Linked DNA regions of Homo sapiens. The protein of the gene in region 1 purifies or fractionates together with the protein of each later gene. This does not show direct contact. Each region holds a gene or a part of one and is shown on either strand. Other genes may lie near its edges. The genes, in order: EPHX2, NPEPPS and ACAA2.

Region 1 (3,656 bases):
GTTCTCTGCCTGTGTGCCCATCTCCCCGAACTTGGGGCCCACCATAATAGAAAACACCCACCTTTTCTGTGAAGACAAATGTTGTTTTAATGGTATTAATGGGAGTATTGCAGTCACCTTAAAACATACTTGCTAATATATTGTGGCAAATGGTGAACGAAAACTGTGATGAAACTATTGGGAAGAACATTATTGAATTATTGACTTTTTATTTAATCCATAAAAAAACCTCAGTAATATTGTTGGAAGGTAAGAAAGAGGGAAATGCTATATATTTTCTTCTTCTTCTTCTTCTTCTTCTTCTTCTTCTTCTTCTTCTTCTTCTTCTTCTTCTTCTTCTTCTTCTTTCTTCTTTCTTCTTTCTTCTTTTTCTGAGACAGGTTCTCACTCTATTGCCTAGGCTGGAGTGCAGTGGCATGATCATGGCTCACTGCAGCCTTTACCTCCTGGGCTCAGATGATCCTCCCACCTCAGCCTCCCAAGTAGCTGGGATTACAGGCACACATCACCATGCCCAGCTGTTTTTTGTATTATTATTATTATTGCTAGAAATGGGGTTTCACCGTGTTACCCAGACTGGTCTAGAACTCCTGGGTTCAAATGATACACCCACCTTGGTGTTCCAAAGTGCTAGGATTACAGGTATGAGCCACCATGCCCAGCCTATATTTTCAATGAACATACAGAATTTAGAGTGAATTTCTAGTAATTGCTATGAAAATCCTGCGTTTCATTCAGACTCCTTTGGTGGCTTCTGATAGTCTGTGTGTAACTTCTAGGAAACTGGCATGGCTAGAGGGAAGAAGCCTGGAAAACTAAATTATATCATGCTAAGGCTATTTACACTTGACTTGTCTTAAAAAAAAAAGTCTTATCTTGGGAGTGAATGTCATCTTTTAACTTTTCATGTGTATATACTATACAGACAGAAAAGTACACATAGCATACAGCTTGATGACTTTTCACACACTAAGTATACTGCTGTCACCAGCACCCAGATCAAGAAATAAAACATTCTCAGCGCTGTAGGCAACACATAACCCCGCTCTGGATACCATCCCTCCAAGAGTATTACCATTCTAACTTCTATCCCAATAGATCACTTTTACCTGTTTTGGACTTTATGTAAATGGAATTGTGCACATCAGCTCTTTTGCGTCTGGCATCTTTTGCTCAACATTGTATGAGTGAGACTCATCGTTGTTGCATGCTGCCATAGATCATTTTATTCTCATTGCTGCATGACATTCCATCACATTCATATACCCCAATCTATCCATTCTTCTATTGATGGGGTTCTGGGTAGTTTTCAGTTTGGGACTATTACAAATAGTGCTGCTATGATGATGTGTATATATAACAATCCATTCTGCTATTAGTGAGTGTATTAGTTTGCTAGGGCTGTGTCTTACATAGCACCTTCAGCTGCTACCTACAGCAAATATGCCATAGACTGTGTGACTGAAACAACAGACATTTATAGCTCACAGTTCTGGAGGCTGGGAAGTCCAAGATGAAGGCACTGGCAGGTTCAGTGTCTGGTGAGGGCTCTCTTCTTGGTTTGCAGATGGCCACCTTCTTGCTGTATCCTCACATGGTAGAAAGCAGAGAGACAGGGGAAAAAAAGCAAGTTCTTGGCTGTCTTCTCCCTGTGTCCTCACATGGTCATCCCTGTGTGTGTCTATGTCCTCATCTCCTCTTCTTATTTGGGCACCAGTCATATTGGATTAAGATTCGTCATAATGACTTCATTTTACCTTAAGTACCTCTTTAAAGGCCTGATTTCCAAATATAGTCACATCATGAGACTCTGGGGGCTAGGACTTCAACACAGGAATTTTGGGGAGGACACAGTTTAGCCCATAACAGTGGACATTTGGGTAGTTCCAGTTTGGGGCTTGCTATGGTCCAAGTGTTTGTGCCCCCCGCCCAAAATCCCTATGTTGAAATCCTAACCCCCAAGGTGATGTTATTAAGAGGTGGGGCCTTCAGGAAGTAATTGGGTCATGAGGGTGGAACCCTCAGGAGTGAGATCAGTGCACTTATAAAAGAGATCCCAGAGAGCTATCGAGCCCCTTCTACCATGTGAAGACAGCAAGAAGGTGCCATCTGTGAAATAGAAGGCAAGCCCTAACCAGACACCAAATCTGCTGGAGCCTTGATCTTGGACTTCCCAGCCTTCAGCACTGTAAGAAATAAATTTCTGCTGTTTATGAGCCACCCAGCCTCTGGTCTTTTGTTATAGCAGCTGAGATGGGCTAAGACAGGGCTCTTAGGAATAGCACTGCTATGACTGTGGGTGAATATAATACAATCTATCCATTCTGCTGTTAGTGGGCATTTGGGTCGTTTCTGGTTTGGGACTCCTAGGAAGAGTATAGCTATGAACATTTTTGGCCATGTCTCTTGGAGAACATATGTTGGCATTTCCAGTGGGTATGTGTCCAGGAGTGGAATTGCTTGGTCACAGGGAATGTATATGTTTAGATTTAGTAGACCCTGCCAGAGCTTTTCTGAGTGGCCATACAAATTGTCCCCTCACTTCACTTTGACAGTGGATACCACTCATGGAAGAAAACTGCAGGAAGTGCTCCGAGACCGCTAAAGTCTGCCTCCCCAAGAATTTCTCCATAAAAGAAATCTTTGACAAGGCGATTTCAGCCAGAAAGATCAACCGCCCCATGCTCCAGGCAGCTCTCATGCTCAGGAAGAAAGGTAAGGATCTGATACTGGCCAATCTCAGGCCGAACCACCCAGAACCCTCGGGAGCATTAGGTCAGAATCCATTGAAGTGAGCTTTGAGATCACAGATCTTCTGAGCCACGATGGAAAGCCTCTTTAAACATGGCCCCAAAGCAAGTTTTATCCAATGGCAAAAGCAGCACTATTAGAAAAGCTGGAAAAATGGCAGGATTTTACTTAATAAAGCAATTGATGCCCATGACTGCCTTGTGAACATCATTCTCCCCTTCAATGGCACTTTAGTAATGACCCAAATGACATGATCTTTTGTCACAGTGATTAAGAAACAAGGCCTTTTTAGCAACTGTGATTTTCTTAGCCTCTGGGTATCAGAGTGTCCAAGCTATGAGTTGGCTGACATGGGCTCAGATTATGTCACATAGTCTAAGACATGAGGTCAAGTTCATCCATAGGCGTTGACTTGGTGTGAACACCTGACTCTTGTCATAGGCATATTGAAACTATTCCACCCTCTTATCAGTAGACTTACCTGGTTGTGGCTGAGCCATCCCATGTCTGCAACTCTTCCCTCCTATTGCGTGGGAAGAGTCTCACCATCAACTCTTCAGTGTCTTCTTTCCAGCATTGCCTAGTTCTCACCCTCGCTGGTTAGGCAGATAAAGCCAGGGGATAATCCTATTTCTATGTACACTTCTCTAGTTTTGAAATAGAAACCTAGTCCCTGATTGCCAAGGCAGGTATTCTGGAATTTAGTCAAGCAGTGTTTTCAGTAGCATGGACTAGAAAGAATGCTGGACCTTCACCATGTGGCTCTGGGCAGCTCGTAACTTGTCTGAGCTTGTTTGCTGATCTGTGAATCTGGGAGGGTAGGATTGGCCCTGTCCACCCCTGAGGTGGTAGAGATCAAAATGAGCTGATGAATGTATAAGTGCTGCTCCACTGTTGTCAAGGAG
Region 2 (2,990 bases), on another chromosome or scaffold:
TCCTCCCACCTCAGCCTCCCAAAATGCTGGAATTACAGGAATCCAACATTTTTAATACAGTAAACCAAACAATTTCTAAGTTTACAATTTATCACAATGCTTAATGATTAAAAGTTGAATAAACTTTTCTAATGCAGTACACCTGGTTTCACAGAAAACAAAGCAACTCTTAAACACCAGCTGGCAAAATGATAGGGCTTTTCCTTTGAATTAGTCACCACAGGTGTGAAAGACAGAATGACTAATCCATCTGATTAAACATAGACCTTTTAGAAATCAATAACCTTATTTACACAGATGACAATTGCTACTGTTCCAAGGCTCCTAATCATGGTTCAGTTCTCAGGGCCTCAAGTCTTTTTCCATTCCATCGCAGAGTAGTACCAACATTTATACACCAGAAACCTGGGGATTATCCTGGCTTGTTTTTCTTCCTCTCCCAGATATGCTCACAACAGAGAAGCCAATCAATAAATATTGTTGAACTAAATGGTTAACAAATTCAAGCCCCTGAATCTCCATTATTCCATCTCCTCCACTACTGCCACTACCCTACTGTAAGCTATTCTATCATTCTTGCTAGGAGAGTTAGCTTCCCAACATCTTCTCTTCCCCATTCCAAACTATTATCCACATTGCAGCCAGACTGAAATTTTTATAACACAAATCAGATCAAGGCACTGCCTTGTTTATAAACCATTCGAAGGCTTTCCATTTTTAGGACTTTTTTTTTTTTTTTTTTTTTTGAGACAGGAGTCTCGCTCTGTCACCCAGGCTGGAGTGCAATGGCACGATCTCAGCTCACTGCAACCTCCACCTCCCGGGCTCAAGCAATTCTCCTGCCTCAGCCTCCCGAGTAGCTGGGATTAGAGGCGTGCACCACCATGTCCAGCTAATTTGGGGTTTCACCATGTTGCCCGGGCTGGTCTTGAAGTCCTGACCTCAGGTGATCCACCCACCTCGGCCTCCCAAAGTGCTGAGATTACAGATGTGAGCTACCATGCCTGGCCATTTTTAGGAAATTCTTAATATGGCCTATACAGCCCTGCATGATGTCTTTCTCTAAACAAAAACACAGAGATGCTACAGTACATTATCCCAACACTATAATTACAACCAGGTTATTGTTTTTACTTACTAGACTGAAAAGTGAAGAGTAAACAGTATTTTCCTTACCTTAACCTCTCCAGCCATTTTATCAACTGCAAATCCCTCAACTGATAGCTGCAAAACAATGGTTTTAAACAGTAAGTGAAACCAAGAGGCTGAGAACAAACTTCCATTTACCCTAAAAATAAATCATTCTGTTCTCTGCCAACTTCAGTCTGTTATAAAGGATGTGTGATGGGAGATGGAGAAGTCCTTAAATAAAGCCAGTAACTATTTAAGGAAACTTTTTTTTTTTTGAGACGGAGTTTCACACTTGTTGCCCAGGCTGGAGTGCAATGACCTCATCTCGGCTCACCACAACCTCTGCCTCCCAGGTTCAAGCGATTCTCCTGCCTCAGCCTCCCAAGTAGCTGGGATTACAGGCACACACCACCACGCTCAGCTAATTTTTGTATTTTTAGTAGGGACAGGATTTCACCATGTTGGCCAGGATAGTCTCGAACTCCCGACCTCAGGTGATCTGCCCACCTCGGCGTCCCAAAGTGCTGGTATTACAGGCGTGAGCCACTGCACCTGGCCACAGGAAACATTTAAAGAGCAAAGACCACAATGTATGGGTGTAGTGAATCATGGATGTCACTAAATAATATCCATGATTAGCAAGCTACTCAAAGTTTTTCACATACCTTTATTAGTCTGGATATTAAGAATCCTCCCTGGTATCGGTTATAAAGTTCTTCCCAGTTGTCCTTTATGAATTTCCAAGCAGCTTTCCTACCATGCTTGCTGCCTCCAGCTACTCCACCAATTACCGATACAGTGTCCTGTGGACGTACCTCTTCCTAAAAAAAGAAAGAGAGCTAAAAGTCTAGTGTATCAAAAACATATTCTGGTACCAGAAAGTGCACCATACTGTGACACTGAAGTAATCACACTGAAGACACTTATTCCTTGTTTTAGGAATAACTGGAACCAGAAGTTCTCAGCAAAGAAGATAATGTTTAAGCTAAAGATAACCAAAATGAGAATGAGGTACTGAGACAGGTTCAGACAGACAGACTGCTCAACAGATACTTGCTTAGGAGCCTATAGGTTTAAGAAAGGAAGAGACACAAAGTAAGCAAAGGCATAAGCCAGTTTCCCAGTTTTCAAGAGTCCCTGTCCTCATAGTTTCCATTCTGGAGAGACAATTTGTTTACTCTCCCAACTATTCTGATTCTCGCCACTAGTGGGAGAAAAACAGAAGTCAGTAACAAAAACTCAAGCCAGTTACTCTGGAAAAGGAAGCTTTAGTTAGGGTTAAGGCAGCTCAAGAGGATCAGAGCTGAATCAGAGACACTTCTCAGAGATGGGTAACGATTCACTTCTAAATGCAGTTTTCACCGTAACTTACTGAAAGTGCAAACGTGAGGACTTTTTGAATCAGGTCAGGCAAAAGAGTAGCGCCAAGGACTCTTTCGATTCGGTTTTTCTCTTCTTGCATATCTGCTTGTTTATGAAGCTACAGGAAAAAAGATAAAGATAGGAATAGTTAACTCTCCCTTGGATGTTCTGCATATGATTATATGAGCTTCTTCCCCAGTAAGGTAAAACTTAGGTTCTATATTCTCACTAGGTAAGAATGGCAGGGCATTATATTAAAGAAAGAGAATACTTTTCAAGATGCTTTGGGCCAGGTGCGGTGGTTCACACCTGTAATCCCAGCACTTTGGGAGGCCGAGGCGGGTGGATCACCTGAGGTCAAGAGTTCGAGATCAGCCTGGCCAACATGGTGAAACCCTGTTTCTACTAAAAATACAAAAAAAAAAAATTAGCCGGGCGTGGTGGTGCCCACCTGTAATCCCAGCTACTTGGGAGGCCGAGGCGGGAGAATCGCTTGA
Region 3 (3,656 bases), on another chromosome or scaffold:
GGCCGGCCGGGGGCTGACCCCCACCTCCCTCCCGGACGGGGCGGCTGGCCTGGTGGGGGCTGACCCCCACCTCCCTCCCGGATGGCGTGGTTGCCGGGCGGAGACGCTCCTCACTTCCCAGACAGGGTGGCTGCCAGGCGGAGGGGCTCCTCACTTCTCAGATGGGGTGGCTGCCGGGCGGAGGGGCTCCTCACTTAGACGGGGCGGTTGCCGGGCAGAGGGTCTCCTCACTTCTCAGATGGGGCAGCCGGGCAGAGACGCTCCTCACCTCCCAGATGGGGTCGCGGCCGGGCAGAGGCGCTCCCCACATCCCAGATGATGGGCGGCCGGGCAGAGACGCTCCTCACCTCCTAGACGGGATGGCGGCTGGGAAGAGGCGCCCCTCACTTCCTAGATGGGATGGCGGCCAGGCAGAGACGCTCCTCACTTTCCAGACTGGGCAGCCAGGCAGAGGGGCTCCCCACATCCCAGACGATGGGTGGCCAGGCAGAGACGCTCCTCACTTCCCAGACGGGGTGGCAGCCGGGCAGAGGCTGCAATCTCGGCACTTTGGGAGGCCAAGGCAGGCGGCTGGGAGGTGGAGGTTGTAGCGAGCAGAGATCACGCCACTGCACTCCAGCCTGGGCACTATTGAGCACTGAGTGAACAAGACTCCGTCCGCAATCCCAGCACCCCGGGAGGCCGAGGCTGGCGGATCACTCGCGGTTAGGAGCTGGAGACCAGCCAGGCCAACACAGCGAAACCCCGTCTCCACCAAAAAAATACGAAAACCAGTCAGGCGTGGCGGCGCGTGCCTGCAATCGCAGGCACTCAGCAGGCTGAGGCAGGAGAATCAGGCAGGGAGGTTGCAGTGAGCCGAGATGGCAGCAGTACAGTCCAGCTTCAGCTAGGCATCAGAGGGAGACCGTGGGGAGAGGGGGAGGAGGAGGGGGAGAGGGAGAGCTGTGGATTTTTTATAGATTCCCTTTGTCAGATTGAGAAAGTTGCCATCTGTTCCTAGTTTGTTCAGTGTTTTTGTCATGAAAGGGTGTTGTATTTTGTCAAATACTTTTTCTGTTGACTTTTTGTGTTGAAATCCACATTGGATTTCATTGTTTCCTAAGAAATAAGTAAAACTCATTTATTCCAAGTGATATTTAATAATATTAAACTCAATTAGAAAAGCAGCTTTGTGGTATTTGTCAAATGTTATTCGAAGCATATTCTGTTCTCTCTTAACCATAAAGGCCTAACCCCAAATATTTATCTGTTAATAATTTACACGAGATGATCGTGTAAATTTTTTTTATTCTGTTGATATGTGATATTTGACAAACCTTGGCAAAAGAATATCCATTGGCCAAGAATTTTTTTAATGACATTAATTTGTAAAATAAGATAATTTCATCTCAGTCAACAGATGAAACATTTAGTTAGTAGATTAATTGATGTTATACTGAGTTCCTCCCAGTTCCATCTGCATTCAAAACCCTTAACTTATAAATGTGCCGAATTTGTCAAGTTTTGAAAAACTTGAAACCTACACAAAAGTTAAAAGAATAGTACAATGAACATCCTAAAACCCCGTACCTTGATAGACCAATGTTTTACATTTTGTCAAACTTGCTTTTGCTCTTGCTAACAGCCTCCAAAACAGGCTGTTAATGTTTTTGGTTGTTGTTGGTTTTTTTTTTTTAAGTCATTCTTTTTATTCAAAGTGTGGTTCTTGGACTAGCAACATCAGCTTCACCAGGGAAATGGTTAGAAATGCAGAATCTCCGGCAGACCTAGACCTGTTGATTCAGAACTTACATTTTATTATAACAAGACGCCCCCATATGCATTTTAAAGTTTTGGGAGTGGTGGTCTACTCCTACCTCTTACTCTCCTGACCAATCATTCATCTGTCTTCTCCCTAAGTATGCAGTCCTCAGCCTGTTTTACATTAGAATTACTTGGGATGCTTTTTAAAAGTGACTACTGATGCCCAGGCCCCACCTCCAGCCTTTCTGGTTTAATTGATTTGCTTAGGAACTTAAGCATGAGTATGTTAATAAAGCTTCCTAGGTTATTCCAGCCTGCAACCAAGGTTGAGAACCACAGCCTCCGATACTTCCTCTGTTAAGGAGCATACTACTTTAGGATAGCGTATTCCATTTTTAAATAACTCTAATTGTTATAAATTTCTGTCTTATATTAAGGACTTAATGGGATTTCTCTAAGTAGCAATTATCTTTAATATATTTGAAAACCAATTGACTGTGGTTACACAACATTATGAATGTATTTAAATAATACCATTGAACTATACACTTAAAAATGGTTACAATGATACATTTTGTTATGTGTATTTTGCCCCAATAAAAAAATAGAAAAAAACCCAATTGACTGTAGTTTTTATTCAAATTGTAAACACATATTAGATATAATATGCTGTACTTAGATGCATTTTGTCCTACCTTAGAGCCATATAGTTTATCATTTTTGATAGATTGCCAACATTTCCATGTATTTCGTGCTTGTTCTTAATTAGTAGATTTATAGAGAAAATTATTTTTCTTTTCCTTCTCTCTTCTAGAGTTCTTCAGATGCTATATATTTGGCAAGGCATGTTGGTTTGCGTGTGGGAATCCCAAAGGAGACCCCAGCTCTCACGATTAATAGGCTCTGTGGTTCTGGTTTTCAGTCCATTGTGAATGGATGTCAGGTATGGACAACATTTTTTTAAATTCTCTGAAAATATGTTAATAGTTACTAGAAGAAATGTCCCACTGCAATATAACACTTTAGCTTTAGGGAGGATTGCTTGAGCCCTGGAGGTCAAGTAAACCATGATCATACCACTGCACTCCAGCCATGGGCAACAGAGTGAGACCTTGGCTCCAAAAAAAAGAAAAAAAAAAAAAAGCTAATAATGAACCTGAAAGTGGAATAAGCCTGTCATAAAAGGACAAATACTGTATGTTTCTACTTCTTTGAGATACCTAGCGTAGTCAAATTCATAGAGACAGAAAGTAGAATGGTGTTCCCAGGGACTGGTGAGGGAAAGTTAGTGTTTAATGGATATGGAGTTTCAGTTTTGCAAGATGAAAAGCGTTCTGGAGATGGGTGATGGTAATGGTTGCATCACACTATGAATACACTTAAACTACTGAGCTGTATACTTAAAAATGGTTAAAATGGTAAGTATTATATATATATATATACTTCAATATTTTTAAAAGCTAGTATGTTCATCATTCTTTCGAGTGCTTCCTACATGCTAGGCACCCTGCTAGATTTACATTCAATATCTCATTTAATCTTACAACCATCCTATGAAGCAAGAACTATTATTATTATTCCCATTTTACAGGCAAGGAAACTGATTAAAGCCATTAAGGTTACTCAGTCATAGAATTTGAACCCAGGTCTGTGAGTGTTACCTGTGAGGCACTGAATAAAGACCGTGAGGCAAGCAGGAAATCTCAAGAATTTAGGAGAGGATAAGGAAATGTATTTTATTTCAAAGGAAGTGAATGATGCTGTTAGTAGAAGTACAAACTAGTTTGACCTTTTTAAAGGACAGTTGGTTAAATACATTTGTTTCTTTGAGCACAGAGAAGAAAGTGAAATCCAATTTCATTTGTAAAAGTCTTCATTTTATTACAAACAAAATAAGAGCCAGAGGCGTATTT

What was found.
Region 2: the proteins of EPHX2 (region 1) and NPEPPS fractionate together in Homo sapiens (co-fractionation; one large-scale study listed by BioGRID). This does not show direct contact.
Region 3: the proteins of EPHX2 (region 1) and ACAA2 fractionate together in Homo sapiens (co-fractionation; one large-scale study listed by BioGRID). This does not show direct contact.

Annotation. Positions count from the first base shown.
Region 1 is NC_000008.11:27,501,049-27,504,704, forward strand, and holds part of EPHX2 (bifunctional epoxide hydrolase 2), read left to right. Parts: intron 1-2,555; coding exon 2,556-2,715; intron 2,716-3,656. UniProt on the Homo sapiens protein: Bifunctional enzyme. The C-terminal domain has epoxide hydrolase activity and acts on epoxides (alkene oxides, oxiranes) and arene oxides. Plays a role in xenobiotic metabolism by degrading potentially toxic epoxides.
Region 2 is NC_000017.11:47,617,971-47,620,960, reverse strand, and holds part of NPEPPS (puromycin-sensitive aminopeptidase), read right to left. Parts: intron 2,612-2,990; coding exon 2,504-2,611; intron 1,953-2,503; coding exon 1,797-1,952; intron 1,684-1,796; coding exon of another isoform or gene 1,589-1,683; intron 1,225-1,588; coding exon 1,177-1,224; intron 1-1,176. UniProt on the Homo sapiens protein: Aminopeptidase with broad substrate specificity for several peptides. Involved in proteolytic events essential for cell growth and viability. May act as regulator of neuropeptide activity.
Region 3 is NC_000018.10:49,796,496-49,800,151, reverse strand, and holds part of ACAA2 (3-ketoacyl-CoA thiolase, mitochondrial), read left to right. Parts: intron 1-2,557; coding exon 2,558-2,686; intron 2,687-3,656. UniProt on the Homo sapiens protein: In the production of energy from fats, this is one of the enzymes that catalyzes the last step of the mitochondrial beta-oxidation pathway, an aerobic process breaking down fatty acids into acetyl-CoA.